Linked DNA regions of Homo sapiens. The protein of the gene in region 1 purifies or fractionates together with the protein of each later gene. This does not show direct contact. Each region holds a gene or a part of one and is shown in the gene's direction. Other genes may lie near its edges. The genes, in order: PLCXD2 and KIF26A.

Evidence for each region.
Region 2: the proteins of PLCXD2 (region 1) and KIF26A purify together in Homo sapiens (affinity purification with mass spectrometry, with the first as the bait; one large-scale study listed by BioGRID). This does not show direct contact.

The regions. Positions count from the first base shown.
Region 1 is NC_000003.12:111,712,673-111,716,479, forward strand, and holds part of PLCXD2 (PI-PLC X domain-containing protein 2), read left to right. Parts: intron 1-1,214; coding exon 1,215-1,456; intron 1,457-3,807.
Region 2 is NC_000014.9:104,136,888-104,141,465, forward strand, and holds the start of KIF26A (kinesin-like protein KIF26A), read left to right. Parts: upstream 1-1,699; 5' UTR 1,700-1,835; coding exon 1,836-1,877; intron 1,878-2,155; coding exon 2,156-2,401; intron 2,402-4,578.

The DNA.
Region 1 (3,807 bases):
GAAATGAGGCTGACATCCAGAGCTCTTGTTCTTGGGTGCCCGGGAGGATTACCCTCTGTGGCCAACTATCCGGGGATGGCAGTCCAGGCCTCGTGAGCATGTGCAGGGCATTCCTCCAGGAAAAGATTACTAGTGCCTGGGACAGGGAAAAATATATTCCTTTAGAAACCTTCACAGCAGAGCTCTGAATTGGGACGATCAAAATAGCAGTTTCCTATCCCACAGCTGCCTCCCAGAAACTAATTAATGCTGTGGATGTAGCTTGCTAATTATTTTCAACATCACCACCATCCTGAGCGGTCCCTGTGGAGGCCAGTTGCCTCTGCAAAGTCTCCCCTGACTCAAGTGGCACACTCCCCACTCTCCTGGGAAGGGCAGTTCCAGGCAGAGCCAGCACACACGATTGAAAGTCTATTTACCCACAAATTAGTTCAGTGTTTTTATTTCAACTCCAAAAGCTGTCAGTTTTGTAATTACAGGAGACATAACTTCTAGACAGCGCTTGCTGCTCAGCCTAAGAGTTCTCAGCCTGAGGTCCAAAGCTTCCCCAGAGGGATATGAGGGTAGAATTTAAGAAGTCTTTAAATTTGGATGGGAAAAAAAATACATATTCATTTTTACTAAAATTGAACTGAAAATTAGTATACCCATAGATTATGAGGGCAGGCGGTGACCCACAACAATCTTAGCCCTGCCTGATTTTTATCTCCCTAGATGCGTCCATCTCACATTTTGGTTATCGCAGATATCTGAGATACCACTTATGCTTATCCCTAACTCACAGTTATGGGACTTATTAGACTTACAACAAAATATTTTTATTGAATGCATTTATCATGCAGCACATACATTAATTTATTACAAACTTATTTAATATATTGATTGCTATATTTCCATATCATAGATTTTCTTTGTAATCCTGTATATTGTATGCATTCATTTAACATGTAATTCTGAGAAGGGGGTCCATGATTTTAATATACTTCCAAAGGTATTTATGCCAACAAAATTAAGAATTTTTGAGTCAGACATATGGCAAGTGCTCTGTAAATCTTTGCTGATTTCCTAAAAATATATATTAATATAAACAGTTCTTGACTTTCCACATATGATTATATTTTCTTGCCTTTTTCCTAGCAGTCCGTATAAAACGGAGGAGTTAACATTCAGCATTTTTATGGATTGCTCTCCTTTTTGTGTTTTGAATATTTCAGGTTCTTATTTTCTACCACTGTCCCTTCTACAAGCAGTACCCCTTCCTGTGGCCAGGAAAGAAGATTCCAGCGCCCTGGGCAAACACCACAAGTGTGCGCAAACTAATCCTCTTCTTGGAGACCACTCTGAGTGAGCGGGCCTCACGGGGCTCCTTCCATGTCTCCCAAGCGATCCTCACCCCCAGAGTGAAGACCATTGCCCGGGGCTTGGTTGGGGGCCTCAAGAACACGCTGGTTCATAGGTAAGAATTTGCTTCCACCCCACAAGGAAAGCTTTTTAAAAAATATTTATCTTGATTCTATTCTGAGTAAATCGCAGTAAAGCCATGTAGTCTGAGGAGTTAGAAAAACAACAAAACAAGCAAAAAACTTTGTATTCGAGAAAACCATGCAGTTGAGGTGGATTGTATTAACAAAGGCTCTCTAAACACTTTGTTCATAAGTACACATCATACCATAAATACTGTACTCTCTAAATTTTGCTATAAGGCAAAGCACATTGAGCCAACACCATGTCTGTTCACTCCTGGTACCTGGCCACATGGGGTCCTGCCTGTGCCTCGCAGCTGACCCAGGCACTCATTTAAGAAGCATTCAATATAGGCTGCTGTCCTAGGTGCTAAGGATTCAGAGCTGGCCCTTCAAGAATTTGTTCTCCTTTCCATGGTGACCATGAGTCACTGAAGAAGCAGCTTAGGATGCCACCCACCATGCCCATGCTGTAGCTTCAAATACTTCCTCAGGGCAGAATTGAGCCTGGTTGTACAATTAGATAGCAGAAGCTTCAGTAATTTTGTATCAGATGGTGTTCCTTATCCCGGACACCAATGAATGATAGATGTTCTCAAGAAAAAGGATGGTTTATTTGTATGCGTGTTTGTGTGTGTGCGCGCACATATATGTGAGTGTGTGTATGTATGTGTCTATGTACCTGTACATGTGTATGTGTATATGTATATGTATAAAAGGAATGTTATAAATACATTTGGATAACAGGGAATCCCTTGCAATCCAAGCTAAGGAAGCTAATACGTTTGGGTAGCAAAAGATATTTACAAGAATCAGTTTGGTCCCTGAGTTTCAGGTTGACGAGCAGAGTTCAGATAATGAAAGATTCATCCAAAAACATGTTTCTATTTATTTGGTCCTGAGTTTAGGTAACATGAGTTCAGATAACAGGAGTTCACCTAGCAGGAGTTTAGACAGCAGGACTAGATTTTTCTTTCTTGGTGAGAGCTCCTGATTATGTCAACCATGGACAAAACCAGAAAGTGTTTTCTGTGTGGCTCTACTAAGTCTTGACTGAATTCATTATGCTGAACTTGGAAAAGTGAATTTTATAAACCAGCACTATATCTCTTTGAAAGATCCCGAATTAGAAGCTTTATTGTTTTAATAATATGTTTGTGTATCCACACTGTTTTCCTCATGCCTCTGGTATATTTGTAGATCAACATTATTTATATATTCATTCAACAAACATTGAGCACCTAGGAAGAGCTAGGTACAAAGATTCAAGGTGAATATTATACTGTCTGCTGTCAAGGAACTCACAGTCTAGCAGCAGAAACTGGCATGAAAATTTCTATAAAGCAATGTGAAATACCACTGTGAAGAAGTCTGTGCAGACAGCCATACTAATAATGGAGAGGGAGTATTTAAAAAACTAAGGATAAGTTATATCTGTATACCATATTCTGAATATCAAATGGCTTTTTGCAGATGATTTCATTTGATTCTTAAATCAAGTCAGCCTCTAGGATGGCACATTGTCTACAGCATATTATCATCCCCTCTTTAGATGGGATTCAGGGAGCTTAAGTGACCCCAATCCATACAGCTAGTAAAAGTCAAGAATACCTCTCAGACTCTGGCCTTCTGATCGTTAGACCACTGCCCTTTTCAGCGTTGGACACTGACTTGGATACTGCATATTTTTGTGCTTATTCTTTTCTGTTCCACAGGCCTGCAGTTGTCTTATTAGTACCTGAATCTGGTAATATCTCACAGGTTATAACTAGTAACCCACAATGTCACAAAGCTTTTCATATCTGTACATTCCTAAAACTTTAATCTGGCTGCAAGTGAAACATTGGCTCTTTCCTTTATGATGAGAGATAATGATGTTGGCATGCGCCCAAAGCCAAGGGATCCTACTATGCCAGAGCCCTTGCACTACTGCTAGCAGCAAGCCAATGTCCCCAAGCTTGGAAAGATACTTTCTTTGGCATCTCGCCCCCCTGCCGGCCATAAGAATATTGCAAGTATGCATGCATTCCTAGTCCTGCACATCAACTGAAGGAGGAAAATATAGCTCTGGTTGAGTTTGTTCCAAAAGGCCAGTGCAGAGTGTGGCTGTCATTTCCTCTGGGCTGTTGAACAAACATAGGACCTTCCCCTGTGTGCCAACACCCAGAGGGTCTGTCCTAACAACTGGTCGCTGGCACTGGTGGTCAGCTCAAACCAAGAAAAAAAAGACAGGGTATATTTTCTTACAAATGTAGAGGTGGTTTCTCGGCAGGGATTTAACCCCCTAACTCTTCGATAAACTTTGGAGCTAAGATCTTGTTCATTTTGGTTCAACACCGTAGAA
Region 2 (4,578 bases), on another chromosome or scaffold:
CGAAGTAGGGGGTCGGGGCCCCTGACTGATCGTGAGCCCCCGAGGTGACTCCAGCCTTGTGCACCCCGTGTTCTGCGGATATGGGATGTGAGCTTGTGCTTCCCGAAGCGCCGCGGCGGTAGAAGCGCTGAAGTTGCGGGTGTGGCTGGCCAGGGGCGCAGGACCGGTGCTCCCGACCGCTGCGTGCTTCTGTGTTGCGTGTGTGGGTGGGGGGACGGGATATAGAGAGTGTGTGTCCCGGAGCAGTGGAGCGGCGGGAGGCGGTGCTGTCTGCCGGCAGTGCGGGGTGGGGTTTGGGTGTTGTCCTCAGTACCCAGATCCAGATGTGGGCTGACGCCCGTTTTCATTCTCCAGGCTGCGAAGAGACGGGTAGGGGAAGCGCTTCCGGCCCCCCAGGCTGGGTGGAAAGCGACTGCAGGCTTACGGATCTCAGAAAGAGTGGAGAGCCCCTGCCACTTTATTCCATACCCCCTTGCGTTTTCGAACCCCTAAGGTCATCAACGACCCGGAAAGCCGGGAGGGGATCACCCACCCCACTTTCTGGGGAGTGCGTGCGTGGGCGGGGAGGCTTATCCAAGTAAAAGGGGGTGGGCAAAACGGAAAGGGTCACTTTGACGTACTGAGTCTCTGCGAAGGCCTCACCGTATGTGCCGGCAGCCGCGTGTCCTGGTCTCCGCCGGGTCACGACCTTCGGAGTTTCCGAGTGCGCCTCAGGCCTGGGACGCGCGGCGCTGTCTCCCCAGTCTCGGAGCCGTGTGCGCAGCGGCCGGCAGGGGGCACTCGCGTCACGGGGAGCCCGCCCGCCGCGCCCGCCTGGCTTGACCCGGGCTTTGGGGCTGACCCGGAGCCTGGCCCGGAGCTGCCTGCGGCCGCGGATGCCGGCGACATTTGGGGCCCGGCTAGGCACAGAGCAACTGGTCGCCAGGGAAGGGCGGGGGGGCGGCCTCCCAGCCGGAGACAAACAAGCAATTAATTCCGGAGCTGAGTTCCCATCTGCCAGGCCTGCTGACAACAGGTCCGGCGCACGCCCGCAGGACCTCCCGCTTCCCGGGCGGCACGGCGCGCACACCCACTTGCGGGCACACGCGCGGCTGTAAAGACACGTGCCGTTCGCAGACGCGCCGAGGCACAGATACGCCGGCGCGGTCGCTGCCCGGCTCGAGGCGCACACCGCGGCGACACTAACCCACGCGCGACAGTTAGACCTAAAGTGGCCCGCGACACGCAGAGTACGCTGGGCTTGCTGGAAAGGCGCCTGGGAGTCTCGGGGCCGGGGTCCCGCCCCTTCCTCGGCCCACCTCGCCGTGGGCCTTGGGCAAGAGCGTCCCCTCCGCAGCCTCAGTTTTCCCGCCTGTAGAGGGAGGGGCGTCGGCGCCTCCTGGGAGACGCGCAGCCCTGGTGTCCCGGGAGAGGGGCGGGAGGCGCATGCGCGCGCGCAACTAGATCCTCGCCGCCGCCCCCAGCGCCCCTCCCCGGGGCAGGGACTCACCTAACAGGTTGGGGTCCTTGGAGTGCGCGGGGCCGCGTGGGGAAGCGGGGACCCTACCCCCCCCACGCGCCGCCCAGCACTGGGCAAGGGCGGGGCACTCTCTGGGCTCCCGCCCCTCGCCGCCCGCCCCGGGAGCCCGAGCCCCGCCCTTCCCCGGCCCCGCCCTCGCCTCCCGAGCGCGCCCACCGGAGCCACCGCGCTCCTCGCGACACTCGCAGGCTCTGCGAACTTCCGAGCGGCTGGGCCGGGCCATGGGGGCGCCTCGGGGCCGGATCACGTAGCCGCGGCGCCCCCGGAGAGCCAGCGTGGCCGGGAGCGCCTGCCGGGCTCTTCCCGCGCCCCGGCCATGGTCGGCCGCGGCGTCCCTCTGTGCGCTGCGCAGCCCGCGGTACGCGCGGCCCGGCCTGGAGAGGGAGGCGGGCGGCGGGGGCCCGGGACGGCGAAGATACTCGCGGTGTGCGCTGGATCCCTGGGGGCCGGGCCTCCTGCTGAGGGTAGCGGACCCGCAGGCGGGACCTCCGGGGATGGAGGGAGTGGGTGAGCGCCAGGGTCGTGCCCAGGGCTCCTAACTTTGGCAAGAGCGTCACGCTGGGGCAGGGCGCGCAGGGGTCTGGATCCGACGGACGTCCCAGGCTCACTGTCCGCTTCCGCCCCCACACCCTGCAGGTGGCCGAGGGCGGCCCGGCCCGCGAGCCGCCGCCGCTGCTGGAGGTGTCCCCCCGAAAGAGGCTACCCGCCGGGCCCGACCAGGACCCATGCGGCAGCCGCCCTGCTCCCGAAGGCGCCGGGGCCGGCCCAGAGCAGGGCCACTCGGCCGGCGGAGGCGGCTGGTGCCGCCACTGCCACACGAAGCTGGTGGAGCTCAAGCGACAGGCGTGGAAGCTGGTCAGCGGGCCCGGGACCACCCTCCGGGTAAGTGACACTTCCTTAGGCCGACCCCTCCGAGCAGGGCCACGCCGAACTTGGGTAGAACTTGGGGCTTGGAGGGAAGCAGGGTTCCACTCCTTCCCTGCTGCTGTTTCCACAAAGAGTTATCAGCCAGGACTTCCCTTCTGCGGGCCTCAGTTTCCCGGTCTGTAACACCATGTGTGAGCTAGGGAGCTCAGCCCGAGGGGCCCTGCTGCCTCGGATGGGAGGGGCCTGGGCTGGCGTTCCTCCCCCAGCCCAGATGTCCCACAGCTGGAACGCAGGTTTGTGTGGGAGGAGGAGGGGAGAGAGCGGATGGCAGGGACTCCACCCAGGGCGGGACAGCTCCAGCCCTACCAGCAGGGAGAGGTTATTTGGTGCATTGTGGCCCTTGGGGCACCTGGGCCCCCAGCCAGGTGTCTGGAAATTACATACCTGGGGCCGGGGGGCCTGGCAGGTGAAAGGGTGGGCCACAGCAGCTGGGGGGTCCCTGCCTACTCCTCTCCCAGCCTCAAGGATAAGAACTGTTGTCCCATACCTCCTGGGATAGACTGAGGCAGTGGCCGCCCATGGGGAATTGAGTCGGGGCCCTCTGGGTTCCCCAGGCTCCAGCCCCAGGGGCAGGTGCTTGCAGGGGAGGGGTTCTCCTGGATTTCCAGCCAGTGGGCCTGCCGGCTTTGGAGGGAGCAGGGACCATTGTTCCAGGAACAATGCATGCTGGAAGTTTGCAAAGGCTGGGGGCGGGTGGGGGTCTCCAGAGGAAGCCCGCTGCCGGGCCTTCAGCCTTTATGAAAGAGTTCCTGGGAAGTCCGCATAATCCCCATTGAATCTAAATATAGTTCTCTAAGGGCTGTGGGGGTTGGAGTGAGCTGAGACCCTGACTGCCCTGTCTGGGGCAGGGCAGGGTGGGGCAGGGTACCAGTCTGGTTTCTGTCCTGGGCACCGTCTCCGGGCTCTCTGGAGTCTCGGCGAGGGATAGGATTGCTGTAGCCTCTCTCTGGCTCAGGCCAGGCGCCTGTGGGCCTGTCCTGGGGTGGGGCTGGACCCGCCCTGTCCTCTGCTCTGGACAGGCTGCAGCCTTGGCCATACTCTGTGCCCCAGTGGCCTGTATCTAGTTTAAAAGGTAGCAGGAGACCCTTGAGGGCCCCCTGGAGAGGGCCAGCCAGAGCTAAAGGCCCATCTTGCTGCCCCATTAGGGGAAACACGCCAGAGACAGGAGGGGCATTAAGATTGAGCTGGTCTCCTCATTCTTGGAGTGGGCTTGGACTGCTGATGCTGCCTGGCCCTGGGGCCATGGTCCTGGCATGGACTCGTGGAGGGGAGGGGGCTCCTGGTCACGGGCAGGCCAGGGGTCCTAGTGGAGAGGGCTGCAGGTGATACTAGTCCCTGGTGGATTCTAGGTTCCTCATCTAGGGGGGTGTCTTGGTCTCTTCTGGCAGACAGGTCTTCAGGGGAGCCCCAGACCACCCATCTCCAGCCTCCCCTGAGCTTGGCCTTTGACACTGGAAACTCCTCTTGAGTGCCAGCTGGGGGCTCCCCCTTCCCTAGCTGGCGCTGGCACTCAGCACACCGGGGTCCCGGGCTGGTCTCAGCCAGGGCTTTGTTCTGCTCTGGGCCCCCTTCTTCTGCTTTGTGGTCTCCTCTGTCACCTGGGGCCTGTTGTGAAGTGCTGTCCCACCTGCAGGGTGCTGTGCCCCCGGGAGAGAAGACCCCATCCTCCACTGTCTCTCCACAGGGCATGGGGGGCTGCACCTGCCATCCTGGGGCCTTACGGGTGTCATTGTCCTGTCCCCTGTGCGGGCCTGGGCTGTCCCCAGAGTCCCAGCAAAATTGCAGCCTGCAGCCCTGGCCTGGCCCGCTGGGCCCAGATGTGTGGACATGGCTGCTTCTGTGTTTGGGTTGGGAGGGAAATCTCTGGGGTGGCCAGGGAGACCCCAGTGTGCTCCCCGGAGTCTGGTGCACTGTCCAGTGGGCCCTGGCCTCTGCTCTGTAAGGCCAACGTGGCAAGGGGTATTTAGGGTTGGTGTTCTAGGATTTCCCCAGGGGCCCGTTTCGTATTTTTTAGGGGAGAGATGAGCTTCCTTGAGGATAGCTGTTTACAGGGAACTTCACAATCATCCATCTGTCTCATGCTTGGATCTTCAGAAGCCCAGAGAAGTGGAGAGACTTGCTGGGACCCGGCC